4 linked regions of the Homo sapiens genome follow. The protein of the gene in region 1 purifies or fractionates together with the protein of each later gene. This does not show direct contact. Each region holds a gene or a part of one and is shown in the gene's direction. Other genes may lie near its edges.

Region 1 (7,268 bases):
CCCAAGTAGCTACTAGCGGACTACAGACACACACCGCTGCATCTGCCAGATTTTTTTTTTTTTAAACAGAGTCTCAGTCTGTCTCCCAAGCTGGAGTGCAGTGGTACAATCTTGGTTCACTGCAACCTCCACCTCCTGGGCCCAAGTGATTCTCCTGCCTCAGCCTCCCGAGGAGCTGGGATTATAGGCACCCGCCACCACTCCCAGCTAATTTTTGTATTTTTAATAGAGATGGGGTTTTACCATGTTGGCCAGGCTGGTTTCAAACTCCTGATCTCAAGTGGTCAGCCCACCTCGGTTTCCCAAAGTGCTGGGATTACAGGCGTGAGCCACTGTGCCTGGCCTTAAACTTTTTATAGAGACAGGGTCTTGCCATGTTGGCCAGGCTGGTCTTGAACTCCTGGCCTCATGTGATCCTCCGGCTTTGTCCTCCCAAAGTGCTAGGATTACAGGTTTGAGCCACCCCACCTGATCTTCTTCCTCATTTTCTAAGAATGAATTCAGAGGGTTTTTTTCTACTTATGTTTATTAACAAATCCTCTTTTTCTCCCTAACTGCAGTGTGAAATGGCCACCAGTGGTGACAGACAAAGAGACTCAGAAGTTAATTTCAAGGAACTGAGAACAGCAAAAATGAAACCTGAACTACTGAGTGGACACATCCCCCCAGGCCACATTCCTAAACCTATCGTGATGCCCGACTATGTGGCGTGAGTGTCAGTCTGAATTCTTCCTCAAGGTAGAAGTTGAGGGGCCCCATTTGGTCCTTTCATTTTCCAGTTTGTCTCCAAGTTAATACTCTGTGCTTAAAATCGTGTATGTAAATAGTTGTTATCTGAGAGGTAATGTATTGAATTGAAGGTACAATATGATCAGTAAGGAATAAGATAAGCTGATTTCCCATTCAGCTTCTTTTAGTGAAACAATTATATCTTTGGCTTATGTTTTTCCCCTAGAAAATACCCTGTGATTCAGACAGATGATGAGCGAGAACGCTATAAAGCTGTGTTCCAAGACCAGTTTTCAGAGTACAAAGAGCTGTCTGCAGAAGTTCAGGCTGTCCTGAGGAAGTTTGATGAGCTGGATGCAGTGATGAGCAGATTGCCACATCATTCGGAAAGCCGACAGGTTAGTATGTGCAGCTGCCTAGGAGGAGCACTGAAATCTAGAGGATGAATAAAATCTGGCTTTTTTTTTTTTTTTTTTTTTTTTCTGTGAGACAGAGTCTTGTTCTGTTGCCAGGCTGGAGTGCAGTGGCACAATCTTGGCTTGCTGCAACCTCCACCTCCTGGGTTCAAGCAATTCTCCTGCCTCAGCCTCCCGAGTAGCTGGGATTACAGGCACATGCCACCACACGTAGCTAATTTTTTTCTATTTTTAGTGGAGACGCGGTTTTGCCATGTTGGCCAAGAGTGGCCTCAAGTGATCCACCTGCCTTGGCCTCCCAGAGTGCTGGGATTACAGTCATGAGCCACCGCATTTGGCATAAAATCTGGCTTTTTTTTTTTTTTAAGGCTAGAATCTCACTCTGTCACCCAGGCTGGAGTGCAGTGGCGTGATCTTGGCTCACTGCAAGCTCCACCTCCCGAGTTCATGCCATTCTCCTGCCTCAGCCTCCCGAGTAGCTGGGACTAAGGCGCCTGCCACCACGCCCAGCTAATTTTTTTGTATTTTTAGTAGAGATGGGGTTTCACCGTGTTAGCCAGGATGATCTTGATCTCCTGACCTCGGGATCCACCTGCCTCGGCCTCCCAAAGTGCTGGGATTCAGGTGGGAGCCACCACGCCTGGCCCCCAAAATCTGGCTTTTAAAAAAATTTATAACCATTTACATCTGCTTTCTGTGTCTAGGAAAGCATTTGAGATCCTCAAGGTGTCTAGTCAAGATGACAATTCAAATTATGTAACTTAATATCTTTTGTCTTCAATTATTAAACAGTATTTCTTCTTTTTTTTTTTTCACTCTGTGCTTACCCATATTTTATTTTCTTACTTAAGTAAAATACGAATTTGCCTAAGATAGATACTGAGTCAGTCAGGGTCCCAAAGGAGACAGATAGCACATTCAAACTAGGATAATTCACAAAGGTTTATTCAGAAAGGGAATGTAGGGAAGCCACCAGGGGCATTGCATTCCCCTGCTAAGCCAGAGCCCAGCAGTTAGCACCCCAGGCCCAAAGGCAGAGCGCCCACTGAGTAAGAGTAGAGAGCAGAAATGGCCAGGCGCAGTGGCTTATGCCTGTAATCCCAACACTTTAAGAGGCCAAGGTGGGCAGATCGCTTGAGCCCAGGCATGCAAGACCAGCCTGGACAACATGGTGAAACCCTGTCTCTACAAAAAATATAAAAATTAGCCGGGCATGGTGGCATGCACCTGTAGACCCAGCAGGAGGCTGAGGTGCAAGGATTGCCTGAACCCAGGAGGTGGAGTTTGCAGTGAGCTGTGATTTTGTCACTACACTCCAGCCTGAAGGACAGAGTGAGACCATGTCTCCAAAAAAAAAAAAAAAAGCAAGCAGATATGAGATATGCTACAAATGTGAGCTGCTGGACACACACATCAGACAGGTAGCTGTGATTATGACAAAGAGGAAAACCAGGAGTAGATATGGTAGTTACAGAGGCTTAAGCTTTTTCGTAGTGCTCTTCCGCACCCCCCACATTTTTCACATTTTGAAATAGGAATATTGAAATAGGAATGCCTTATAACCTGTGCCATTTTTTAATTTTTATTTTATTTTATTTTTTTGAGATGGAGTTTTGCTCTTGTTGCCCAGGCTGGAGTGCCATGGCGCGATCTCGGCTCACTGCAACCTCTGCCTCCCGGGTTGAAGCGATTCTCCCACCTCGGCCTCCCAAGTAGCTGGGATTCAGGCATGCGCCACCATGCCCAGCTAATTTTGTATTTTTAGTAGAGACGGGGTTTCACCATGGTGGTTAGGCTGGTCTCAAACTCCTGACCTTATGATCCACCCGCCTTAGCCTCCCAAAGTGCTGGGATTACAGGCGTGAGCCACCGTGCCTGGCCACCTGTGCCATTTTTTAATCAGATGTACTCTTTTTTTTTTTTTTTTTTGAGATGGAGTCTTGCTCTGTCACCCAGACGGGAGTGCAGTGGTGCAATCTCGGCTCACTGCAACCTTTGCCTCCCAGGTTACGCGATTCTCCTGCCTCAGCTTCCTGAGTAGATGGGACTATAGGTGCACACCCGGCTAATTTTTGTATTTTTAGTAGAGGCAGGGTTTCCCCATTTAGGCCAGGCTGGTCTCGAACTCCTGACCTCAGGTGATCCACCTACCTCAGCCTCCCAAAGTGCTGGTATTACAGGCATGAGCCACTGCATCCGGCCCAGATGTACTCTTTTTAATTGAGATCTCATTCACATATAATAAACCCACCCTTTTAAAGTGTACAATTCAGTGAATTTTAGTATAGTTACAGAGTTTTGCAATCAGCACCACTCAAATTCCACAACAGTTTTATCACCCCAAAAAGAAACCCTATATTGGCTGGGTGTGGTGGCTCATGCCTGTAATCTCAGCAGTTTGGGATGCTGAGGCAGGCAGATCACTTGAGGTCAGGAATTCGAGACCAGCCTGGCCAACATGGTGAAATGCTGTCTCTACTAAAAGTACAAAAATTAGTTGGGCATGTTGGCAGGCTGAGTAATCTCAGCTACTTGGGAGGCTGAGGCAGGAGAATCACTTGAACCCAGGAGGTGGAGGTTGCAGTGGGCCAAGATTGCGCCACTGCACTCCAGCCTGGGCAACAGAGTGAGACCCTGTCTCAAAAAAAAAAAAAAAAAAAAAAAAAATGAAACCCTTTACGAATTAGCAGTTATTTCCCATTCTCAGCTCTGTCCAACCATTGACAACCACTAATCTACTTTCTGTCCGAATGGATTTGCCTAGTTTGAACATTTCATATCAATCTTTTGTGTCTGGCTTCTTCATTTTGCATAATGTTTTCAAGGTTCATCCATATTTTAGCATAAGTCAATACATATTCCTTTTTGTGGTGGAATAATATTCTGCTATATGGATATACCACATTTTGTTTATCCATTTATCAAGAGATAGACATTTGGTCATTTCCAAATGTCTATATAGTCATTTCCACTCATTGGCTGTTACGAATAATGCTGGTATAAATATTTGTGTAATATTCTGTCTTTTTAAAAGAGGCTGTATTAATCTATTACATGTATGATTAAATTTTAAAAACACAGCTTTGTAAAAACTAAATGTCGGTCTGGCTGTGGTGGCACATGCCTGCAGTCCCAGCTACTTGGGAGGCTGAGGCAGGCAAGTCGTGTGAACCCGGGAGGCGGAGGTTGCAGTGAGCCAAGATCATGCCACTGCACTCCAGCCTGGGCGACAGAGCCAAAAAAAACCAAAAAACAAACAAAAAAAACTAAATGTCAAATTTATGTATGGGAACACACACACACACACACACACACACACACACACACACACACACACACACATATATATAAATTTTTTACCTGAGAAGTTAGGTGTCTTTGTTTCAATCACAGACTCTTTGTTAAGTGTGCATTTAAATCACTTATCGTTATGAGTTAACTAAGCCAAATGTGTATTACAGTAACATTTTCCTAATCCTGGAGCAATGGAATGGTGTTGGCTAAGAGACGCCAGTACCAGGAAGCAAGAGAAATTCAGCAAATATTGAGGTTGAATGTCAGTACCATTTGGAAAATAAGCAAGGCCCACAGGTCTAAGAAGGGTGACCTAGTCTCTCAGAGGCCGTCAAAGGAGTGCAGGAAGGCATGAGGCCCCAGGAATCTGGATCAGCACAGGCTGGGAAATGCAGGCTTGTTGGGAGAAATAATGAAGAAAATCCTGACCTGTAAGGCCGGGTGTGGTGGCTCACACCTGTAATCCTAGCAGTTTGGGAGGCTGAGGCGGGCAGATCACCTGAGGTTGGGAGTTCCAGACCAGCCTGACCAACATGGAGAAACCCCATCTCGGCCAGGCACAGTGGCTCATGCCTGTAATCCCAGCACTTTGGGAGGCCAAGGTGAAACCGCGTCTCTACTAAAAATACAAAAATTAGCCAGGCATGGTGGTGTGTGCCTGTAATTCCAGCTACTCAGGAGGCAGAGACAAGAGAATTGCTTGAACCCGGGAGTCGGAGGTTGCAGTGAGCTGAGATCGTGCCACTACACTCCAGCCTGGGCGACAGAGCAAGACTTCATCTCAAAAAAAAAAAAAAAAGAAACCATCCCAACTAAAAATACAAAATTAGCCGCACGTGGTGGTGCATGTGTGTAATCCCAGCTACTCGGGAAGTCTGAGGCAGGAGAATCGCTTGACCCAGGAGGCGGAGGCTCTGGTGTGCCAAGATCGCGCCATTGCACTCCAGCCTGGGCAACAAGAGCGAAACTCTGTCTTAAAAAAAAAAAAAAAAAAAAAAGCTGGGTGCGGTGGCTCACACCTGTAATCCCAGCACTTTGGGAGGCCGAGGCAGGCGGATCATGAGGTCAGGAGATCGAGACCAGCCTGGCCAGCATAGTGAAACCCCGTCCCTACTAAAAATACAAAAAATTAGCCGAGCATGGTGGTGGGCGCCTGTAATCCTTGCTACTCGGGAGGCTGAGGCAGGAGAATGGCTTGAACCTGGGAGGCGGAGGTTGCAGTGAGACGAGATTGTGCCATTGCACTCCAGCCTGGGTGACAGAGTGAGACTCTGTCTCAAAAAAAAAAAACAAAGAAAATCTTGACCTTGACCTGTAATCTTTGAGCCAACACCCAGTGGTATCTGGTTTGTGTGCTTTGTATGAATGGACAAGGGCTGCAGCACATGGTCTGCAGTTGGGAAATCAAGAGGGTCCTGATGACAGTACAGGTTGAGAGACCAAGTCTTCCCATGATGTTTCCACACAATATCAACAACAGCCATTACCTGTGATTTTTAACAAGACAGGGCTTGTAAGTAACCCAATGGCAGGCCCACGGTTATTATTATCAGTGTATCCTCCAGTCCTTATCTAAAGTAGAAATATTAACCATATTACAAAAGTTAGCTTCTCCTTGGCCACAGGCTGAGCTTTGTCCTGGGCAGGAGTCCACAGGCTCATTCGTTTTCCCACCATGTCCCCATGGAAGCATGTGAGGCATTTCAAAGCCCAGTGGGCCTGTTTGGAGGCAGGTTCTCCCACAGACATGGTTGTGCACCACTGAAAAATAGTCACATGACTTTTCTGAGCCCATAAAGTAGAAATATTGCCCCAAACAATCCCTCTGGTCCTCACCACTCCTTAAATTCAGTGACAGACTCTAGATGGATGTTACAGCTCATCTCTGCCTGCATCTCCAGCACAGCAGTGCTAACCCCAATAGCAAGTTTATTCCTTGTCCAGGATCTGTTATTACAGATTACAATTAAATCACCAGGTTTATCTTCACTGCTGGCAAGCATTCAAAACACAAACATACTCATGATCTCAGTATGTAAAAGAGATTGAAGAATTAAAATAGTTCAGGCAAGGGGGCTCATGGCTGTAATCCCCACACTTTGAGAGACAAGGCAGGAAGAGTGCTCAAAGCCAGGAGTTCAAGATGAGCTTGGGCAACATAGCAAGACTGCATCTACACACAAAAAAGTAAAAGTTAGCGGCCGGTCATGGTGGCTCACACCTGTAACCCCAGCACTTTGGGAGGCCGAGGTGGGTGAATCACAAGGTCAGGAGTTCGAGACCAGCCAGGCCAACATGGTGAAACCCCATCTCTACTGAAAATACAAAAAATTAGCTGGGCGTAGTGGCAGGTGCCTGTAATCCCAGCTACTCGGGAGGCTGAGGCAGGAGAATCACTTGAACCTAGGAGGCGAAGGTTGCAGTGAGCCGAGATCGCACCACTGCACTCCAGCCTGGGTGACAGAATTGAGACTCCATCTCAAAAATAAAAAAAAATAAATATAAATAAAAATTAGCCAGGCCTGGTGATGTGCCGTATAATCCCAGCTACTTGGGAGGCTGAGACAGGAGGATCACTTGAGCCCAAGAAGTTTTGGTTACAGTGAGCTATTACACCACTGCCTTCCAGCTTGGGCAACAGAGCAAGACCCTGTCTCAAAAAAAAAAAAAAAAAAAGAAGAAGAAAATATACTGGGAAAAGGATATGGGTCAGTGATAGAAAAAGTTCTCAGGCCAAGCTTTTATTTTATTAGTTTTTTATTTATTTATTTATTTTTGAGACAGAGTCTCTGTTGCCCAGGCTGGAGTGCAGTGGCGTGATCTTGGCTC
Region 2 (7,268 bases), on another chromosome or scaffold:
TTTTTTTGTATTTTTTTAATAGAGACGGGGTTTCACTGTGTTAGCCAGGATGGTCTCGATCTCCTGACCTCATGATCTGCCCATCTCGGCCTCCCAAAGGGCTGGGATTATAGGTGTGAGCCACCGCGCCCAGCCTCCTTCTTTTTTTTTTTTTCTTTTTTTTTTTTTTTTTTTTGAGATGGAGTTTTGTTCTTTTCGCCCAGGCTGGAGTGCAGTGGCACGATCTCGGCTGACTGCGCCCTCCGCCTCCCAGGTTCAAGCAATTCTCCTGCCTCAGCGTCCTGAGTAGCTGGGATTACAGGCATGCATCACCACACCCAGCTAATTTTTGTATTTGTAGTAGAGGCAGGGTTTCACCATGTTGGCCAGGCTGGTCTTGAACTCCTGACCTCAGGTGATTCACCCATCTTGGCCTCCCAAAATGCTGGGATTACAGGCGTAAGCCATCGCGCCTGGCCCCCTCTTTTTTATTAATTGCAAAATTCTGTAGCAACATGAATCAAGTTTCTGTCTTATTTGAAGAGAATCACTCTATTGGGCTGTTTCAGCAATAGCAGCTCATCTTGGACTCAATATTCTGGAAAGCAAATATGCCTTAACCATGCATAAATTAGTCTTACATGTGCTTAGTTTTTGCCCTTTGTTCCTTTACAATTTTGAGACATTTGAATTTCTTAATAATATCAAAAAGGCTCAAAGTACTAGCTAGAATGATGGCAAAATTCAAAGGTATATGTCTTTGGGTTTGCCCCTGAATCTTCAATAATCTGTCATATTTAAGTACAAGTTCTACAAGTTGCCTTTTAATAATGAATCACAACTATTACTAGGGCATGCATGGCTTTGTCTAGTTCTAAAAATGTTAAAGAATGGAATATAAGATACAGACTGAGATATGCTTGATTACAATTAGTCTACCATATTTAAATATGCCGCAGTGTATTCATTTACCAGGTGAATTATTTTCCTTCAAAGTGGTCTTTTTTTTTTTTTTTTTTGAGACGGAGTCTTGCTCTGTCTCCAGGCTGGAGTGCAGTGGCGTGATCTCAGCTTACTGCAACCTCCGTCTCCTGGGTTCAAGCAATTCTCCTGCCTCAGCCTCGAGAGTAGCTGGGACTACAGGCATGCACCACCAAGCCCAGCTAATTTTTTTGTATTTTAGTAAAGATGGGGTTTCACCATGTTGGCTAGGATGGTCTCGATCTCTCGACCTCATGATCTGCCTGCCTCGGCCTCCCAAAGTGCTGGTATTACAGGCCTGAGACACCGTGCCCGGCCCCAAAGTGGTCATCTTAAGAGACTATTCTAATTCCAGGAGTGCTGCTGTAAATATTACTGGCATTAATTCAGAAATGCCTTTAAGGAGTTTCCTAGATGTATATAAAAATAAGTAAATTATTTTTAGTCACAGGTCTTTCTATTTTTTATCTCCTATCTTTTTCACCTTCCTTTGCACTTTGTCCTAGATCTGCTCCTTTCCCTTTTCCTTTGTCTCTTATCCAATAGCTCATGTGCTGCCTGAGAGAGACTGTGTTAGTACTAGATAGAGGTAGTTGATTCTGGGCAGAAGGACTTTTTAGGGTGGAAGGTGAACATAAGACCAGAATCTAATTTATGGCTCATAATCAGGTGTATGTTAAGTCACCAATAAAGTGCAGACCTAACAGACTCTGAGAATGTATCTGTAAGACCTAGAAAAGGATGTACTTTTCTCCTCCATTGCCATTACCTTTTGACTTGGCTGATTCATCATAAACAAAATCTTCTGTAGACCTCCTAGCCAGGCACACTTCTAGCAACTACAGAGAATACAAAAAAGCACATAAGCTGGTTTTAGAGGACCAGAGCATTGATTCCCCTTAACTTTGGTTGCATACCAGCATTATCTAATGAAACATTAAAACACAAAACAAATATATGCCCTAGCATTAACCCTGGAGAATTCTGATTCAATAGGTTTCATGTGGTGTGGGACCCAGGAATCTGTATTTTAAAAGCTCCGCAAGTGATTCAGATGTACGCCTTGGCTAATAATCACTGGCTAAGGGCAAGGAAAGAATCTTAGGACATGAAAAGGAGCTCAAGTAGAATCTATTAGGAGGCTCGTTTCTGTAATCTTTGCCATTGTTAAAAGTGCCATAAGCAATAATACCTAGAAAGTACAGATGTTCCTTGATTTATGATTGTATTGTGTCCTAATAAACCCATAAACATATGATAAGTTGAAAATGAACGAAATACCCTGATAAATCCATCGTAAAGTCTAAAAATTGTAAGTTGAACCATTGTAAGTCAGGGACCATTTGTATCAAATATAGAACCATGGAATTATAGAATAGGAAAGTGTTATGCCCTAAAATTTTTATTTCATTGTATCCTTTTTGAATAATTGGATTTAGGAAACTTTTTTCCCTCTTACTGTACTGTATACTTCTTTTATTTTTCCCTTTCCTGTGGTGCTGAATTGTACTAAATACTTTAAAATCTCCATTTTAATTTATTTATATAGGATCCTGCTGGCCACTTTCATCAAGTATGGTATGATAACCCTCAGAGTATTTCTTTAAAGGCAACATATATACAAAACTATCGCTTACGGGGCATTGGCATGTGGAATGCAAACTGTCTTGACTACTCTGGAGATGCTGTAGCCAAACAGCAAACTGAAGAAATGTGGGAAGTCTTAAAGCCAAAGCTGTTACAGAGATGAACATCTTTTGTCAAACCATTAAGAGTTAGAAAGATGATCTGTATCAACAGATCTAGTTTCTTGCATTTTTATTATGTTGCTATATACTTTTGTTATCCGTATACTAAAAAAAAAGAATAAATAAATGTTTTGATTGTTTGAATTTGAAAAATACACACGAATGTCCTCAGTATCCAGGAACATAAAGGCAAGAAGCAAGTCAACTTACCTATTAAATATTCCTCTATTAGATGTTTCAACACTATAATTTAATTGGGAAAAATTGCTTTCAGAATTTTATTATGCCATATTTCCCTTCATTATAGTAAAATATATGCTCACGAATCAATGCTGATTTTTAAAATATGTATAATCTGAAGTGGAAATTGTTTGCTTAGAGTTTTTAAAAACCTAGTCTTTGAAAAGCAGTTTGTGCTATACTTTTCCCCCAACCCTCCAATAAATCTTAAATTTAAAACCTACAATGTAGTGTCTCCCCTTTAGGTTCATCAAACTGATGAAAATAATTTTTCTGCTTCCTGACTCCATATAGTATTTATGTTCTCTGAGGTACTTGAACTAAATCTTTGGACAGTGAGTGAGAATTAAAAAGAATCCAGAAGATTAAATGTATTCACAAAATAGAAGAATGTAACAGTAATATTTTGAATTGGTAAGTTAGAACTACCTAATATTTTCCAACTACATTATTTTTATGAGGCTCATTTGTAAAATTTTTAATAATAGGAATAACTTGCAGTTGAACTTGATTCTGTTCACTGTCACACTTCTAATTATTCATTTCTTCATTTATGGACATATATAATTTATTTCTTGGCTAGCTTGCTTACATGGTTAAATTTTTCTTTCTACATCTGCAATGTATCTTTTTTATTTTTATTTTTTGTAGAGACAGGGTCTCGCTATGTTGTCCAGATGGGTCTCCAACTCCTGGGCTCAAGCACTCCTCCTGCCTTGGCTTCCTAAAGAGCTGGGATTACAGGCATGAGCTGCATTGTGCTTTTAATGATCTAAAGACACTGATTAGCTTCTCAACTAGTTCTCTTTCTAAAAGATCAATTTTATACAAATAAGTTTTCTAAATGTAATAAAGTCTGTTTTCTTTCTCCAGGGAATTAAGAACAACATTGTGCTGCCCTTATTAGTTCCTAATTACAGATTAAAAATCTGTATCTTTGAACTCTAGATTTACATAAATCCTGGCTTCCCTGCACATTTTGCCCCTGTAAATTGGAATACATGATGATTGAACCATCTGTTATGAGAATATTACATTTCCTATTTACACAATTGTTTGTGACAGAGTAAAAACCATTTTCATAGTATATGTTGGATCACTGTTGTCTTCATATTTCTAAAATAAATGAATTAAAAAATTTAAATTCTTAGATGCTTATCTCTATCATAGCTCAGAATGCAACTTCAATACCCCCATTCTTTTATATTTCCAGATTTCTTTTAATTAAGATATAATGAACAAATTAAGTTAAATGAAGTCTGTATTTTCATGCAAATATATTAGTATTCATTAATATACATTTATTCTTTGCAAATAGATTTTAGTTATATTAGCTCTTAAATTGTTAAATAAATTATTATTGAATTTTATTATTAAATTATTAAAATGAAAATTATAAAATTAGCACTGTAAAATAATATGTAAAGGACTTGGAATGTTAAAAATAACCATTCATCATTTTGCTTTATATTACATCTAATATTTCCTGAAACATTTTGTAATACCCACATGGAAAGTGGAGAAAGAGAAACCTTGTGCTTTTTATAAAACATTGCCAAGGAGAATAATGGTTAAACAAATCTGTTCAAATACATATTTAAATTTTTTTACAAATAAAAGTTTTAAATTAACATACCTAATTGAGATTGTAGAGATGTATTATTTTTTTTTTCTGTGCCAGTTCAGTTTTCAATGTTCGTAAATCTGAAACTGCTTGTTTTCTCATCTATAAAAAGAATTACTTTTCAAAAATGAACTTCATCATACCCTTCTAAAAGTACATCATAGTTGTCATGTAAACAGGGTTTTTGTAACCGCTTTAACTGTCTTCTCTCATTTGGCTTCAGTGCTTTCAACTCCCACTGGATTACTACAGTAAATGTGTAGATTATGAATGCTGTTTAATAAGCATGCTTATCTACTGGTGAGATATGCTATAAGGTAACCTTGTTTATGAGTAGATAGGGACAATACAATTGAACTGTTCTAAAAACTAGAGTGAGAAAGAATTTTATGTTTTGCTTAAACTTCAAAACCTGTTGTTCTCAATGTGTAAAGAAAATAGTGAAAACAACAAGAAAACAAAATACAAAAAAAACCCTTAATTCCTAGCCCTTAGGAACGGAATAGATATTTCAGAAATATAGTGTTTACTCTGTGGCAAGCACTCTTCTAAGTGTATTAGTCTCTTATTTTTTTTTCAAAAATTTTACAGAATCAGATACTAGTATTTATCCCCATTTTACAGTTGAAATGGAGACCTTTAGAGGCTAAGTAACTTGCTCAAGATAAAAAACTAGTAAGTGAAGTGGGTACAGCCAGGATTCAAATTCAAACCACCTGGTACCAGAGCCCTTACTATTCCAAGTGTTGTCTGTGGACAGCAGCATTAGCATCAGTTGGGAGCTTGTTAGGTAGGAAGAATCTCAGGCTGCACCCAGACCTACTGAGTCAGATCCTGCATTTTTAAACAGGATCCTCAGATGATATATTAAACTTTGAGAAGCACTACTTATGCTATACTATCTTGAATAAATATGGTTGCAAGAGACTCAGGCTGGGTTTTTTTTGTCCCTTAGTTCTGAATCTTATAGGTAGTGCTGTTTTGGGGAGATCATTCAGAAATCAATAAAACTTCTTAAATAATGTCTGTTATGTGTCAATCAGGCACTATGGTTAAATACAGGATTTTTTCCCCCCAGCCTATAAGCTGAAAACTTTGTTCTCTTTTTTTCCTCTTATTCCACTTGTCCTTACTGTTTTTGTATGAACAATTCTAATTTGAGTTCAAACCATGAGTGACATTTGTAATGTTAAAATATACAAAGATTACAAGTAATGTGCATGCTTTCCAGAAGAAAACAGCATGAGGGGAGTCATAATCCAAGCCTCTGGGGGCATTTTTATTACTCCTTCCTACCTACCCAATTATTAAGTGTACAAGTTTACATATTGGCTTTATCTCCATATATTGAATAGACAGTTTTCCTTCATTGAACAAATTATTTTTTGAGTGCATATTTAACTGATATTTTGTTAAAAATTATCCTCTGCTCTTTTCCTTTTCTATTTTAAGTTTTAAGCTTCTCAGTGCCAAACCAGGGCTTATTTAGCCTCGAGAATGCTGCTTGTAAAAAGAATCTAGAACTGCACTGTCCAGTATAGTAGAAGCCAGTTGCCATATGTAACTACTAAACTTAAATTAACTAAAATTAAATAAAATTTAAAATTCAGTTCCTCAGTCACACAAACTACATTTCAAGTGCTCAATATCAATAGGTGGCTAGTGGGTACCAATCTGACAGTGCAGGCATAGAACATTTCTATCATCACATAAGTTCTGTTGGACAGTGCTAATTCTATTTTTTTATTTTTAAATTTTATTTATTTTTATTTTTATCTGAAACCGAGGACAGTACTGATTTTCTTTTTTCTTTTTAAAATTTTTTTAAAAAGAGCTAATTCTAGAATGCAGTCATTATTCTGTGTCATAAAGCTGTTTCTGATAAAGAAATGAGAGCATTCATATAATTATCGTTCTCATTTTCCTGCCTTGCTGTGGGTACTTGTATGAAAATGTATAATCTTCTGTTTTCTGTTCAACAAAAAAGCTTTTTAATACATATGTACTTCACAGATAATTTCTATGATGTAATTAGTTGTACACAATTCTCACCAAATAGAGCATGCCCAGAAGCCTCTACTAAGCATCTGCTATACAAAAGGTCCCATGGGAGAAACAAAGTTAACTAAGGCATAGTCTCTGCCAGGAAGGAAACTTAACATCTAGTAGAAGACACATTATTCATATTTAAATAATAGAATACATATGAAAATAACCAGAAAAAATGAAACGATTACCCATAAAAAATTAAATGTCAGTTCAGAGGAGAGCTCAGTGGTTTATCAGACTTAATAATTCTAATACAGGAAAACTACTTAAAATTTTTTTTGAGAATATATTGACTCACAGGTTCCTTTTCCTTTAATTCTTCCTAGTAAAATTTTACTAAATTTTACTTTGGCTTTATTATATCATGTATCTTTTCACAGGTTTAGTTTTTCTTCCTGCATTTTTTTTTTCACCTATGCTCTTTACTGTTAAGGTAACAATTTTAATACAGTCAATCCTGGCTACCCTTATATTATTGACACCCAAAGTTAAAACACCAAAATATTTTATTTCAAGATAAATGTTATAATAATCTGATTAGGAAAAATGTAAATTACCTTAACTTCTACTATGAGTTTCATTTTGTCAGTATCTAGTTTTCTCTTAAGCTGGTCAATTGCATGCTGTACCTCAGTGATCTGGATTAT
Region 3 (7,268 bases), on another chromosome or scaffold:
AGTATTCAAGCCAGGCGGCCCCACCTGCTTTGGTCACTGCACGGGGTGTGAGCCTGCACCACCTCTGTCTGGGGCCTCTGTGCCTGGCTTTGTGCGAGGCGCCCTCCCCCTTCCACCTGGTTGCATCTTCACAGCGACTCTGAGGTGGGGGTGGTGTTCAGGGAGGTGTCGCACTCGGCCTGAGGCACAGCCTGTAAGAACCATTGCCAGGATTCAAGTCTGTATCTGATGCCAAACTCTGTGTGTGGGTGCCATGAGGAGGGGTGGTTCTCCTCTGACCCACGGGTGCTGGCAAGTGGGGGTGCCAGCTTCTGGGGTATTTGACCTCAGCAGACACGCTTCTCACAGTGCCCACCTGTGGGAAGGGTAAGGATGATGGCCATAGGAAATCATGTTTGAACCACAGAAATATTCCAGTTCATTCTAATAACTCTGCTCTTCCTCAGAAATGACTGCTGAGTACGCCTGCACAAGGAAACAGTTTAACAAGAGGCTCAGTGAATTTGGATTGATTCAGGTACCAATGGTTGAGTACTGTATTTGTGCATTTCACTGTGTGACATGAACGGTGTGTTCTTTTGATGTCTCTGTACTGGTGACTTCTGTGGTGATTTGGGAAGAAGACTAGTTAAGGCTTTATTTGACACGGGTCACTGGGCTTGCTTCTCTTGGGCATTGAGGCTTCTGACTTAATTACTTTCTCTCCTGTTTCACAGATTTGGCTCTCAGCACATGCAAATTGTTTCTTGTGTTTTTTCTGAACACTCCAGGAGAAATTTGCACTGATGGCTCAGAAGGCTTACGTCATGGAGAGTATGACCTACCTCACAGCAGGGATGCTGGACCAACCTGGCTTTCCCGACTGCTCCATCGAGGCAGCCATGGTGAAGGTAACCCTGGCATAGCCAGAGAGCTGGCGCTGGAGGGAGGCTTGGGAAATCTCCCTCACTGTGACCTTTCAAGCCCATGCTGTTGCCTGTCATCTTCCTCCTGTCATTGATCCAGTATTTATGATGCACTTGCCCTGTGTAGCACTCCAGGGATAGGCAGGCAGCGGGGAGCAGCAGTAGGGAAGTGTCCAGTGGGCCAGTGGATCAGTAGTTTATAGCAGAAGGAGACCGTTATGATAATATCCTTTTAGAGTAATAACATTGCATCTGGCTTGTGTGAGAAAGACTTCTTTTTTCCTTAGTTTATGGCCTTCCTACTTTCTGGTATCAAAACTTTATCTTAAAAACTAAGCATATGGCAGGGCGCGGTGGCTCACACCTGTAATCCCAGCACTTTGGGGGGCCGAGGTGGATGGATCACCTGAGGTCTGGAGTTCGAGACCAGCCTGGCCAACATGGTAAAACCCCATCTCTACTAAAAACACAAAAAATTAGCCGGGCATAGTGGCGGGCACCTGTAACCCCAGCTACTTGGGAAGCTGAGGCAAGAGAATCACTTGAACCCGGTGGGGGCGGAGGTTGCAGTGAGCCGAGGTTGTGCCATTGCACACCAGCCTAGGCAACAAGAGCAAAACTCCATCTCAAAAAAAAACAAAAAACAAAAAACATGTATGAGCCTGGGCAACATGGCGAAACCCCATCTCTACAAAAAATACAAAAATTAGCTGGCATGGTGGCACACGCCTATAGTCCCTGCTACCTGGGAGGCTGAGGTGGGAAGAGCATCTTATTTGGTTAAGGTAGATACTAGAATTTGCTTTTGTTTTGTTGAGGGTGGAGGGTGTCATTTTTTAGCTGTAATAAAAAAGATGGCCACACTTGGGGGGACCCTACTTTGTGCCCCCCACAATTGTTTTTAAGCTGGTCTCTGGAATTGAGCTCTTGAGAGAAATAGTGAGAGGTATGGCAGCTTACAGAAGCAAACATCCTGGTGTCGGCAGGAGAGTCTACCTAAAAGGTTGGGATCCTGAAGTGGCAAGGTCCCTAAAAAAATAAAAAATTAAAAACAAAAAGGCTGGGCATCTTGGACCGTGTTTGAGTCTTTTCTAGGTGCAGTCTGTGTACTGGGTGCATTTGCATGTGTTTTATCATCTCGTTTTCTTGTCACCCTTGAACAGTGACCACAGACATTAGTTTGCTGTAGGCCAGCCTCTTCCAGATGCTAAGCCTAGGGCTAAACATGGCAGTATGTTTGCCCCCAAGGCACTTATAGTGTGCACAGACAGAAAGAAATCACGGCCGCTGGGGCTTGGCAGGAACAGGTCAGGTTTTCTCGGGAAGGGGAGATCTTAGGTGGGTTTTAAAGGAACAGGAGCTCAGCCAGGTGCAGATAGGGTGAAGGCAGGCCCAGAGGTACAGAAGGTCATGGTGGGGTAGGGAACACAAGCTGGCCAGTGTGGTCACGGAAGGCAAAGGACTTGACCACATCACCCCTCAAGTTCCTCCCTGGCCGATCTCCTCCCCAAGCCCGTGTGCCTCCCATGCCTCCCCAGCCACCCAGCTCCCTGCAGCGTAGGTCCTCCTTTTGGAAAGGATTCAGTGTGACACCCCACAGGTGTTCAGCTCCGAGGCCGCCTGGCAGTGTGTGAGTGAGGCGCTGCAGATCCTCGGGGGCTTGGGCTACACAAGGGACTATCCGTACGAGCGCATACTGCGTGACACCCGCATCCTCCTCATCTTCGAGGTGAGTGGCCCCGCCACCAGCTAAGCTGTGCTCCACCCCCACCCTGCCTGGTCCTAAAGATGCTGCTCAGGGCCTCGCAGAGGCCCCCGCAGCCCAGGGCTGGGTCGCATGCTCTCAGGGGCTCTCCTAGCCCTGGCACGTCTCCTTCCCGACTGCTGCCCTCCATGAAGTCACAAGCCTGAGGAGTCAGTTCAGTTAGCATGTGCCAGGTGGCAGGGGAGGGAACTGGGGCCACAGAGATGACTTCGGATGCTGTGTTCTGATTGTGCAGCAGGGCCGACCAAGGGAGATGACAGAGTGTAAAGAGGCAGGGAGCGGGCATCCTCCAGAGGCAGCCAGAGTTTTGTGAAGCATGCGCTCCTGGCCCCTAGGGGCAGAAAGAAAGGGCTTCAACCAGGGCCGGGTGGAGGGCAGTTTGTCCCTAAGGGCAGGGTAATAGAGCGCGCCAGGCCCAGATGGGACTGATCTGCTGGCACAAGGTGAATGAAGAGAGAGTGAAGGGCTTTCTGGGAGCAGCAGTCAGCCCTGCTAGGTGGGCTGGGGCAGGCAGTGGGTTTGGGGGTGTTGAAGAAGGTATATGGGAAGGCTAAAAAAGTAGCCAGACTGTGGAGGACCTTGATTGACAGCAGAGGAATTTGGAAGCCACAAAACGTCTTTAAGCAGGGCATTATTTGGTTGTATCTGTGTTGTGGGAAATGCCCCCAGGGGCTCAGCAAGTGCTGGACATGTGGACGGGGCTCATGTGGAGAGTGAGTTGCAGGGATGAGGCCGGAGACCAGGGGCTCTCCTGCTGGGAGGGAGGGGCTGGACCTAAGAGAGCACAGCAGGATGAGTGGGATATGATGGTGGGCATGGGTATACAGGAGGCAGGCCTGAGACAGGGAGAGGGTTTGGGCCTGAGCAGCAGGTCTGGTGATGAGAGGCATCATCAGCCTCTGGGAGTGTAGTCTTGTCTCCTGGGCCGTCCTGCCCAGTGGGAGGCCTCCTTGGCTGCTTTTGTTCCTGGCCTACCCATTGGGTTCCAGCCATCTCCACTGTTGCAGTGGACATACGGGGCAAGGGCCAGCCTGAGGGCACTGGAGTGGTCTCAGCCCTGCAAAGGGTCTTCTCCAAAGGCCCTTCCCTTAGCCTGGGAGGGTTGGGGTTCTCCAGGGCTGGGGTGGTCAGCAGGGTTCAGGAAGCCCTCAAGGCCTTGGAAGAACACAGGGCTCTCGATGTAGGGTGAGAGCTCCTGTCTGGAGCCTGCTCGGAGCTGGGTGGTCCTGCCAGGAGGCCCCTGCAGTCCCCCCTTTTCCTGTAGGGAGTCCTGCTGTCCGTGATGTCAGCCTGACTGCAGGGGACAGTCCTCAGTCCCTAGTGCTGGCTGTGTAGCCTGGGTCAGGCCCCTGCACCTGACACACAGTACCATTGTGCAGAGTGGGCAGAAGCCCACTGGCCTCTCACTGATCAGAATCATGGGTTGGGGGAGTGGGGAGCATGTGGCCCTCTGGGTGTGTTGACACCTGGCACTGAGGAGGTTCTAGCTGCCACTCAGCAATTTCTGGCTTCCGTGAGGAATCTGGCCTCCACCTGGAGCCAGCAATGTCTGTCTGGCACTGGCTGAGCCCCAGGCATCAGCACCCCTCACCACCCGGGGAAAGCTGGTTTCCATTTTACAGAGGACCTGGAGACTTGGAGAAAGGCTTGACACACGTGAGGCTGGTCACGGAGAGGTGGGGGGGTCCCAGTGGGAGCTCATGGCCATCTGGTCACCTCCCTCCTCATCCCTGTGCACTCCCTGAGCCCTGGCCAGAGCCCTGCTCCCAGCTACTTCAGGAGCAGTGGCTTTTGTGGCAATGGGCAAGCAGGCAGTGGCCGGCTCTACCCAGCACACGTGGCACTACCATGGCTGCCTGGCCGGGGGGCAGCCTTTGACCTCTACACTACTGACCACAGGGAACCAATGAGATTCTCCGGATGTACATCGCCCTGACGGGTCTGCAGCATGCCGGCCGCATCCTGACTACCAGGATCCAGTAGGTGCCATTGTCACCGTGTGCTTCTCAGGTCCCATACCTGCCCAGCAGGGGCCAGTCCAGGGCAGTGGGAGGAAAGAGCTGCCTTGACCTGGAGTGGGGGCATGGGGGTGTGGCGCAGCCTTGTGGAGGGGACCTTCCCCTGTGGTAGTGGGGGGCTTGCTGCCCAGGGAAGCCCTCGCTGCCCTGCCCTTATGGCCACAGCACCCTACAGCTTCAGCATAAATACCGTATCCCCCATCTGGTCCCTCACACTAGAGGCAGCTGGTTTTTCAGAACCTGAAGAATGAGAGGTGTCCCTTTAAAGGTGCCAGGCCTCACAGCCAACATAAGCCAGTGTTTCTCTTCTCTGCCCTTCTTCCCCTCATGCTCCCCTCCACCCCCACCCTAGGGGCACAGTAATCCAAAATCACTGCTGGAGGCCAAGTACAGGTTGCTAGTAGCATTTTGTCTCCTTCACAGGAGACAGCTGCTGGGAAGCTGGCTGTGACTCCACCCCTCATGGGGGAGCATATGTGTGGCTCCCCTGAGGAGACTGGCTGCTCTCTGGCAGGTGGTGGGTTTGGGGGGGTTCAGGCTGTAGCCAGGGGCCCAGCATACCCAGGCCAGAGGGGGGCACGGAGCTTCTGGGTGCCGAATGGGCCATGTTGCTGGACAGTGAGCGCCAGCAGCGAGGCCTCCAGTCACAGGACCATGGACTTTCTGCAGTGAGCTTAAACAGGCCAAAGTGAGCACAGTCATGGATACCGTTGGCCGGAGGCTTCGGGACTCCCTGGGCCGAACTGTGGACCTGGGGCTGACAGGCAACCATGGAGTTGTGCACCCCAGTCTTGCGGTGAGTGGGCCTAACAGGCATACCCCCTATTTCAATGCCCTCCTGCCAGATCTCCTTGTGGCAGAAAAGATCTCACTGTGGGGGGTCTGGGCTTCTCCAGGGGAAGTTGGGGAACACCAGCTAGTCCATGACACCCTGGATTGCTTCCCCCAGATGGGGCATCTCTGCCTGGTACCCGGGCTGTGAGACAGGACAGGGCACTGTAGGGATGAGGTGCTGAACTGAGTCCTGTCTTGGTTAATAGGACAGTGCCAACAAGTTTGAGGAGAACACCTACTGCTTCGGCCGGACCGTGGAGACACTGCTGCTCCGCTTTGGCAAGGTAACCAGGCCCTCCCAGGCCTGGGTCGCAAGCGGTCCTCCAATTTGGCCAGCATTCATGAGACTACTTTTTGTCAAGCATCCTTTGGGACCAGGCCTAGAACAGAAATGTTGATCACCCTGGAGGGATGGGGTGGTGAGGTCAGGCTGACTTTGTCAGCCTGGGGCCCACTTAGCTACTCGGATGGGTACCCTTGCTGGGTGAGTTTTCTGCAGTGTTTTTCTGTGCACCTTTCAGGTAGAGAGGCTCCCTAGAATCGGGAGGGCAGCTCCACCTGGGGCCTGAATCTAGGGACCTGATTGGTGGGGCCCTTGCTGCTGAAGGTGGCAGTAGCACAGTAAGCACTGGCTTCTGGTCTCAGCCAAGCTTCTGGGACCTGGTCTTGCCTTAACCCCTCCCTGAATCTAGAGCTCAAAGAGAAGGGAAAACAGAAGGTGGCTGGGAGCCGTTCTCCCACAACCTGAAGAGAAAGGTGTTATTGACTCCACTTTCTCAAGGAACACAGGAGACTAAGACAGGCAAAGATGCAGCCCAGGGAGGGACCATGTGGGGGACTGGTCTAGGTAGTGAGTCCCCACTTGGAGCCTCTGTGATCCCAGACCATCATGGAGGAGCAGCTGGTACTGAAGCGGGTGGCCAACATCCTCATCAACCTGTATGGCATGACGGCCGTGCTGTCGCGGGCCAGCCGCTCCATCCGCATTGGGCTCCGCAACCACGACCACGAGGTGAGCCCAGCCCAGCCTCACACAGGGCCTGGCTGCTGCCATCTGTCCTGCTGCACTTTAATGAAGTTGATTGTTGAGGAGGGTGTGGTCGGGTGTGGGGGAGGCTGTGCAGGTTCACCATGCGGTGGCCGTGGGAGGGTCTGTGCTGCTCAGGAGATGGGGCTGTTCCCTTTCTTCTTCCTGACTGAGAGAAGAGGGGGTGAGTGACAGGGGTTCCTGATCCCAGTGCCCCTACCCCCAGCAAGGGACAGACCCTGCACATTGCCCGCTGTGCTGGAGGGAGGCGGGTGCAGTCTCTGAGGACCCACTGTATACCAGGATCTCTGCCTGCACTTTCCAGAGCACCTGCAGATACCAGGATTGTGACATCTGCCTTTCAGAGGAAACAGGGTCAGAGATGTTGAGTCACTTGCTGTTGGGGAAAGGCTGTTGGATCAGGGCTGGAATTAGAACCCAAGACGGGGTGACTCCTGTGCCAGGCCTTGTGACCCCTGCCATGCTACCCAGTTTGGCTGATAGGCTGGGTTTTTGAAGCTCAGAGGTCTGATTCCAGGAATTTGGGCATATCTTTTCTGTCCTCGGTTCTGGCAGGTTCTCTTGGCCAACACCTTCTGCGTGGAAGCTTACTTGCAGAATCTCTTCAGCCTCTCTCAGCTGGACAAGTGTGAGTGGCATGTCTTGGGGGAGGGAAGGAAGGGCCCACTTCTAGGCCCCTATTGATGGTGAGCTGTTTC
Region 4 (7,652 bases), on another chromosome or scaffold:
TTTGGGATTGTATTGAATCTATAGATCAATTTGACACCTTAACAATTTTGAGTCTTTCAGTCATGAACATGGTACATCCTTTCATTTATTTTATGCTTTTAAATTTTCTCTCGATTATGCTTTGTAATTTTCAGTGTAGAGGCAATGCACAGCTTTCATTAGATACTCCTAATTATTTCACATTTATATTGATGCTACTGTAAATCGTATCTTTTAAAAATTTTTTTTCTATTTCTTTGTTGTTGACATACAGAAATACAATTTATATCTGTATATATACCTTGTATCTAGTGACTTTACAATGTTCAGTTATTCATTCAATTAGTATAGGTTCTTCAGGATCCACTATGTATAGAACCATATCATATGGGAAAAGTGACAGTTTTATTTTTTTCAAATTTTCCCTTAATAAACGGGTTATTTGATGGTACTATAAATGAAATTGTTTTCTTAATTTTTTCTTGGATTATTTTGGGCTGTTCCAAAAGTTTGCTGAATTTGTTTATTAATTCTATTAATTCTAATTTGTTTATTAATTCTAACATTTCGTGGGTATGTATGTGTGGGTAGTCCTTAAGGGTTTTTTTGGTAGAATTTTCTACATATATGTTATCTGCGAATAGAATCAATCTCTTTAATAGGTGTGAAATTATTCAGATTTTGTATTTCTGTGTCATTTTTGGTAAACTGGATTTTTCAAGGAAGTAGTCTATTTTGTCCACACGTCAAATTCATTTGCAAAAATTGATCATAGGATCTTCTTTCTTTCTTTCTTTTTTTGAGACGGAGTTTCGCTCTTGTTGCTCAGGCTGGAGTGCAGTGGCGCGATCTTGGCTCACGGCAACCTCCGCCTCCCGGGTTCAAGACCGTCTCCTGCCTCAGCCTCCCGAGTAGCTGGGATTACAGGCGTGCGCCACCACGCCCAGCTGATTTTTTGTATTTTTAGTAGAGGCAGGGTTTCTCCATGTTGGTCAAGCCGATCTCAAACTCCCGACCTCTGGTGATCCACCCGCCTCGGCCTCCCAAAGTGCTGGGATGACAGGCGTGAGCCACCGCGCCTGGCCGGATCTTATTGTTTTTAATACCTTCAGGATCTCTAGTGATGTTTCTTTTTTCATTAAAAAATTTGTTTAAAAATATTTTTAAATCTTCTTGCATCTGACCTTTTTCATTTTAACTTTGATTGTTCTTCCTTTCATTTGTTGGTCTTGAATGCTTAACAATTTTAAATTTTTTAAAATATATCCCCTTTGCCTTTGATTTCTTTATTGTACATTTATTTTCTACTTCCTTGATTTCTTCCCTTAGGATTTATTTCCTTTTACTTACTTTGGGTTTTGCTTATTATTCTTTTTCTAGTTTCATGAGATGGAAGCTTAATTGATTTTCAGTCTTCTTTTAAAAACATACGTACTTGGCCCACGCCTGTAATCCCAGCACTTTGGGAGGCCGAGGCGGGCGGATCACGAGGTCAGGAGATCGAGACCATCGTGGCTAACACGGTGAAACCCCGTCTCTACTAAAAAAAAAAAAAAAAAAAAGAATACAAAAAATTAGTCGGGCGTAGTGGCGGGCGCCTGTAGTCCCAGCTACTCGGGAGGCTGAGGCAGGAGAATGGCGTGAACCCGGGAGGCAGAGCTTGCAGTGAGCCGAGATCACACCACTGCACTCCAGCCTGGGCCACAGAGCCAGACTCCGTCTCAAAAACAAAACAAAACAAAAAAAAACACATATGTACTTTAGACTGTAATTTTTTTATTAAAAACAGCTTTAGCTGTATCCTACCAGTTTTGCTATGCCATATCTTTATTCTCATTCAGTTAGAAAATACTTTCTCATATTGTGATTTCTTCACGGATTCATGGGTTATTTAGCAGTGTACAATATCACTTAATCTCCATGCAACTTAATTCCACTATTGTCAGAAAAGTGTTCAGAATTATTTCAATCTTTTGAAATTGCTGGAGTTTACTTTATAATCCAGGGTACTGCCAGTTTTGGCAAATTCCTTACATTCTTTGTTCCAATATTGCTGCTGACTGTACGTACTGTCTCCAGAAGAAGAGGGCACATCCAAATTCTAAGGTCTAAGCTAGGAAGTGATACATATCACCTGCTCACATTCTACTGGCAAGAGTATATTCACATATCCACATTTAATGCTTACTGCTAGGGGCTTAATGCTAGGGTGGAGGCAAAGCTGAATTTTCGGAACAGATTCTCCCCCTATAAGACAGCAAGACAGTGGCAAGCTGTCCCACACAGATAGTGTTCCATCAGATTGGTCTGATTTGGACCAGTTTCCTACGTTTTACCAGTCGCTGTGGCAAAAGGGATAGAGAGTAATCCTGTTGGACCAAGCCTGGATATTCATTTCCTTTATCAATAACAGACACTGTTAATCCCACAAGAGCCACAAAAAATGGGTTCCAAGGGGGTCAGGCGCTGCGGCTCATGCCTGTAATCCCAGCACTTTGGGAGACCAAGGCGGGCAGATCACTTGAGGTCAGGAGTTGGGAGATCAGTCTGGCCAATATGGTGAAACCCTGTCTCTACCAAAAATATAAAAAGTAGCCAGGCATAGTGGCCTGTGCCTGTAGTCCCAGCTACTCAGGAGGGTGAGGCAGGAGAATCTCTTGAAACCCGGAGGTGGAAGTTGCCGTGAGCTGAGATCACGCCATTGCACTCCAGCCTGGGCGACAGTGCAAGACTCCCTAACAGACACACACACACACACACACACACACACACACACACGTTCCAAGGAGGAAAGATGAGTTACCTTACAAAGAAAAGGGAATAAGCTGGGTGTGGTGGCTCACGCCTGTAATCCCAACAGTTTGGGAGGCTGAGGTGGGAGGATGGCTTGAGTTGAGGAGTTCGAGACCAGCCTGGGCAATATGGTGAGACCCTGTCTCAAAAAAAAGTGGGGTGGGGAATAAGTAGTACCGTACAGAACCTACAGCTAAAAGAAACAAAAATGGTGCTCGCTACAAAAAGTGAGAAAAAGGAAAAAGGTAGCTTCTGGATTTGGAAATTCAAAGGTCACTGGTGTTCCTAATGAGATCCACGGTTGTGGAGTGGCAGAGAGAAGCCACCTGTGGCACAGGAGTCGTCAGTAGGAGTCGCAGGAGGAATTGATGCAGCATGGTGGGAGTGGACGTCACTTTCAAGGTGATCAGCCGTGAAGAGCGGCAAACACAGCGTCTTGGCTCGAGTTCCCCCAAACGGTGCCCCCTGGAACAAGAATTTGAGCACGAGTACAGTAGTTTTTTTGGGAGGTGATCCCAGGAAACATCGGTAGTCAGGGAAAGGAAGGAAGCCAACAGAAGATGCCCTGATGAGCAAGTTGCAGCTGTGGACAACCGCAGCCGTGGCCTACAGAGGACCACCGCAATACGCCTAGGACACACGCCTCCCCGCAGGGCACGTGCGGAGGGCGAGAGGGCCAGGGCATTCTCGACCAACTCTATCCCTCGTGGAGGGAGAGCAGCTGGGAAGGAGTGCAAGCACCCAGCACCTCTAAGTCTGCCCCATTTCTGCTCTGAGCGGGCTCTCCACAGCCAGCGGTTGCCTGCAGGTGGAGCCGGTGCGCAAGACAGGCGAGTGAGCGCCTGGCGGCCCCGTGGAATCTGGGCAACGATGGGAAGGAGAAGGGCGCTTTTACAATGTGCTCGGGTAGATACCGTGAGCATCGGGGGACAGGAAGGGGAGAGGCCCCAGGGTGTTCTTTATCTACAGGAGAGTAAAAGATGCAAGGCGCAGGGCTGATGTGGGTAATTTATGAGGGACTGTAGGAAGTTTGGGGGAGCTCTGATGATCATTGCCTTCTCTTTGTATCTCAAATGCAGCAGCACAGTCTTCAGAGTGGGCTATCAGAACCGAAGGGACTTTTAAGAGCCACTCTCCGCCGCTCATAAGGGGAAATCGAGGTCCGGAGAAGGGAAAGCAAGTGGCTGAATGCCGGTAAAAGGCAGGAAAAGAGCGGAGCCCAGGGCTCCAGGGGGTCGGTTTGGGACCTGCTTCCACCAGCAGAGTCTAAGGTCATCCCCTTGGCCGTGCGCCACCCTGGGCTCAGCCGAAGGAAGGAGCACTCGACACAAACAAAACCGACGCTCCGGGTCTCCGTAGTCGTTAAGCAAAGAGGAAGAGGAAGCGCTTCTTCATTAGGCCACAGGACCGGGCCTTAGAACTTTTGGGTTTTATCCATTAAAGGTCCTTTGGCAATAGAAGAAAAACCCAGATCGAGCCCTGCAAACTGGGATCTTCCGCCGGCACCGCCCCCCGGCTGCGACCCGGGGCTCGGAAAGAACCACCCCAGGCCCGGGCTCCGGTTCCACCGCACAGTCCGCCCGCTGCGGTAAAGCCGCGCCCACCGCCGCGGGTCTCCAACCCTGCGCCGCCGCCGCCCCCGGGGGAGGGTACGGAAAGGGCGCGGCGCCGCCGCCCACGGGCTCCTCCAGAGCGCGGCGGGGCCGGGCCGCGCGGAATCACGGGACAGAGGCGGGGCCGCGCCGGCGGGGGCGGGCGTGCGAGCGGCGCTTTCCTCTCCGGCACCCGGCGGGCGCCCGGGCGCGGCGCCGCCGGCACCCGAGAGGCGCGGTAGCCGGCGCGGGCGGCGGGGGCCGGGCCGCGGCGGGCGCCCGGGCGGGGTCCGCGCTGAGCCGCCTTCTCGGCCGCCTGGTCCCTGCGGCGGCTGCCCGGCGGCCCGGGCGCGCGGCGCTTCGCCATGTACACCTTCGTGGTACGCGATGAGAACAGCAGCGTCTACGCCGAGGTCTCCCGGCTGCTCCTCGCCACCGGCCACTGGAAGAGGCTGCGGCGAGACAACCCCAGATTCAACCTGATGCTGGGAGAGAGGAATCGGCTGCCCTTCGGGAGACTGGGTGAGCCCCTCCCCGATTCCCGTCTGCCCTCCTCGGAGCGGCCCTGCGCGCCTCCCGCGGCCCGTTAGAACCGGCGCTTTTGTTTTTAAAGGTCATACATTTTCTCCTCTGTCGCTTGTCGGGCACATCAGAAACGGATTCGGAAAGATCGAAACCTGTCGTTTTTAATGCTTTCTTGTCTCCTAACTTGGATTTAGAGTCGGAGTCGCGGTGCGGCCACTCGGGGCCGCAGCTACCTCCCGACGGTGACCGGTCCCTGCAGCCCGGGAGACGCTGGCCGCCGGGGCTGGGACCTGAGGCGCGAGTCTAGCGGCTCCCCCGGGCCGAAGCCCCCAGATTTGGCGGGTCCGCCGCGCTGGGCGCGGCTCCGCAGAGCGGGCGGCTGGAGTCATCTTTTGCAGCTCGTCTGCACTGAGGATTTCTCCCTGCTTGGCGTGGGCGCGGGCGGGGGAGCCGTAGGTGTTGAAACCCCTGAGGCTTCTGCCCCCCGAAGGCGCGGAGGAGCGATCAGAGGATTTGGAAAAGACCCCCGGATTCCAAAAGCAGGAGCTGCAGAAGAGACCCTAGCCCAGGGAAGTGTGGAGGGATGTCTGATTATAAACCTTTCCTTAGTTTCACCAAATAATGTGTTTTCGCAGTTCTGCATTGGATTAAGATCTTACACGAGGCTGCGTTCGCCCTCCCTGTCTTCCCTGCTCTCCCCGAGGGAATTACCTTCATCCACATGGTTGAAGCTGGCTGGGCACCACCATACCCACATGTCCACGGGTAGGAAAGCGCAGGAGATAGGAGGGGACTAGCGGCTCCTTTGTAAGTGATGTCATCCAGAAGTTGCCCAGATCGGTTCAACTCACATCCTATTGACCTGAGCATAGTCTCATGGCCTCCCTCTCTGCACAGTCATCTGGGAATTGCATCTTCTCTCCGGGGAGCCATGTTCCTTGCCAGAATTCACCAGAGGTGGGGGCCAATTGTATTCCAAAGACAAGGGGAGAATCGATACGGAGGAAGAGTCACCTCTACCTTGGAGGGCAACCCAGAGAGAGCAATGTTCTATGTCCAGGAGAGAAAACAGTTTTTAGAAATAGGTGTGGTCAGAATTCAAATGGGTAAAAACTGAATACGGGCCATTTGGAATTGACTGGTCATTTATGAGCTTCCATAGACAGAGCCTTTGGGAGGGGGCTGTGTAAAACTCAAATCGTTGGAGGAATGAAGAGCTGCAGTGTAAAGTTGCTGGATTTTCTTCTTTTGAATAGTACCTGGGACAACTTTTCATTGGTATACAAGTTTATGATGTAGAATGGTGACTCCATGGAAGGACCCATTTGAACACCCAGAAATCTTAGAATATGGAGACTGTGCCTGGAGGCTCCCTTTGGTTAACCGGTGTCAGGAAGACCCTAGCAAAGAGAATTCATGATCTGAAAGGAGAGGAAGAATTGCTTATAGTTGAGAACAATTATTTGTTCCTTGCATTGTCCACTTCCCCTTCCAGACTTCCTGACTTCCCTCTATATTCTTGGCAGTGCCTAGCTGTGAAAGCTTAGGTGGAATCATAACATTAAAAACAACAAACATGGCTCCGCCCAGGCAGAGGTAGGAGTGACTGGCATTACCCTGGTGCTTAAGCCTAGGAGTGAGAAGCAGAAGCCTCCAGAATTTGAATCCTGAACAGATACCACAAATTCAGGAGATGATCAGTAAACGTTTGAGCTTTTTGTTTGTATGTGTTTTTTTTTTTTTTTGTAGTTTTGTTTTTTGTTTGTCTGTTTGTTTTGCGACAGAGTCTCACTCTGTCGCCCAGGCTGGAGTGCAGTGGTGCAATTTTGGCTCACTGCAACCTCTCCCTCCTGGGTTCAAGCAATTCTCCTGCCTCAGCCTCCCAAGTAGCTGGGATTACAGGCGCGCATCACCATGCCCAGCTAATTTTTTGTATTTTTGGTAGAGACAAGGTTTTGCCGTGTTGGTCAGGCTGGTCTCGAACTCCTGACCTCAGGTGATCCGCCCACTTCGTCCTCCCAAAGTGCTGGGATTACAGGCATGAACCACCGTGCCCGGCCAACATTTGGTTTTTATGGGAAAGAAAACAGCATCCTACAACAAAATTGGTTATATGCCATCACTGTTAAGGGATATTTACCTTTTGCTTAAAGTGTACTACATGAAAGCCAAGGAGAAGATTTATAGAGCTAGGTAAAGGCTCAGGAAGGCAGGTGCCCTGTGGATAAGAATGTAGGCAGTTCAGGTGGGAATCAGGTCTGTCTGCTCAGGGAGACCAGTGAGAGCCAGCTAATGCCTGCCTGAAACTTTTGATTTGACTGTATGCCATTCTCAGAGAAATTATTCTTTCTTCTGGCATTTTCAACTGAAAATTCCTTTGGTCTTACTTTGATTTTGTTACTGGAAATACAGTGTGTTTTATTAAGATTTGAAACAAAACATTTTTTATTTTATTTTATTTTTGAGATGAAGTCTTGCTCTGTCGCCCAGGCTGGAGTGCAGTGGTGGGATCTTGGCTCACTGCAACCTCTGCCTCCCAGGTTCAAGTGATTCTCATGCCTCAGCCTCCCAAGTAGCTAGAATTACCGGTGTGCGCCACCACGCCCAGCTAGTTTTTGTGTTTTTAGTAGAGATGGGGTTTTGCCATGTTGGCCAAGCTGGTCTTGAACTCCTGATCTCAGGTGACTTACCCACCTCAGCCTCCCAGAGTGCTGGGATAACAGGCATGAGCCACTGTGTCTGGCTGAAAACACTTTTTATTTT

The links.
Region 2: the proteins of MARVELD2 (region 1) and CTBS purify together in Homo sapiens (affinity purification with mass spectrometry; 2 studies listed by BioGRID and IntAct, with this or other methods). This does not show direct contact.
Region 3: the proteins of MARVELD2 (region 1) and ACAD9 purify together in Homo sapiens (affinity purification with mass spectrometry; 2 studies listed by BioGRID and IntAct, with this or other methods). This does not show direct contact.
Region 4: the proteins of MARVELD2 (region 1) and TTL purify together in Homo sapiens (affinity purification with mass spectrometry; 2 studies listed by BioGRID and IntAct, with this or other methods). This does not show direct contact.

Annotation. Positions count from the first base shown.
Region 1 is NC_000005.10:69,431,967-69,439,234, forward strand, and holds part of MARVELD2 (MARVEL domain-containing protein 2), read left to right. Parts: intron 1-560; coding exon 561-709; intron 710-955; coding exon 956-1,127; intron 1,128-7,268. UniProt on the Homo sapiens protein: Plays a role in the formation of tricellular tight junctions and of epithelial barriers.
Region 2 is NC_000001.11:84,550,441-84,557,708, reverse strand, and holds part of CTBS (di-N-acetylchitobiase precursor), read left to right. Parts: intron 1-1,213; exon of another isoform or gene 1,214-1,729; coding exon of another isoform or gene 1,730-1,799; intron 1,800-2,509; coding exon 2,510-2,710; 3' UTR 2,711-4,584; coding exon of another isoform or gene 4,585-4,674; 3' UTR 4,675-7,178; coding exon of another isoform or gene 7,179-7,268. Other genes in the region: SPATA1 (spermatogenesis-associated protein 1), read right to left, coding at 4,585-4,674, 7,179-7,268. UniProt on the Homo sapiens protein: Involved in the degradation of asparagine-linked glycoproteins. Hydrolyze of N-acetyl-beta-D-glucosamine (1-4)N-acetylglucosamine chitobiose core from the reducing end of the bond, it requires prior cleavage by glycosylasparaginase.
Region 3 is NC_000003.12:128,903,616-128,910,883, forward strand, and holds part of ACAD9 (complex I assembly factor ACAD9, mitochondrial), read left to right. Parts: intron 1-446; coding exon 447-517; intron 518-770; coding exon 771-890; intron 891-2,505; coding exon 2,506-2,634; intron 2,635-4,569; coding exon 4,570-4,649; intron 4,650-5,357; coding exon 5,358-5,484; intron 5,485-5,728; coding exon 5,729-5,806; intron 5,807-6,257; exon of another isoform or gene 6,258-6,405; coding exon 6,406-6,534; exon of another isoform or gene 6,535-6,648; coding exon of another isoform or gene 6,649-6,718; intron 6,719-7,125; coding exon 7,126-7,198; intron 7,199-7,268. UniProt on the Homo sapiens protein: As part of the MCIA complex, primarily participates in the assembly of the mitochondrial complex I and therefore plays a role in oxidative phosphorylation.
Region 4 is NC_000002.12:112,477,616-112,485,267, forward strand, and holds the start of TTL (tubulin--tyrosine ligase), read left to right. Parts: upstream 1-4,540; 5' UTR 4,541-4,729; coding exon 4,730-4,886; intron 4,887-7,652. UniProt on the Homo sapiens protein: Catalyzes the post-translational addition of a tyrosine to the C-terminal end of detyrosinated alpha-tubulin.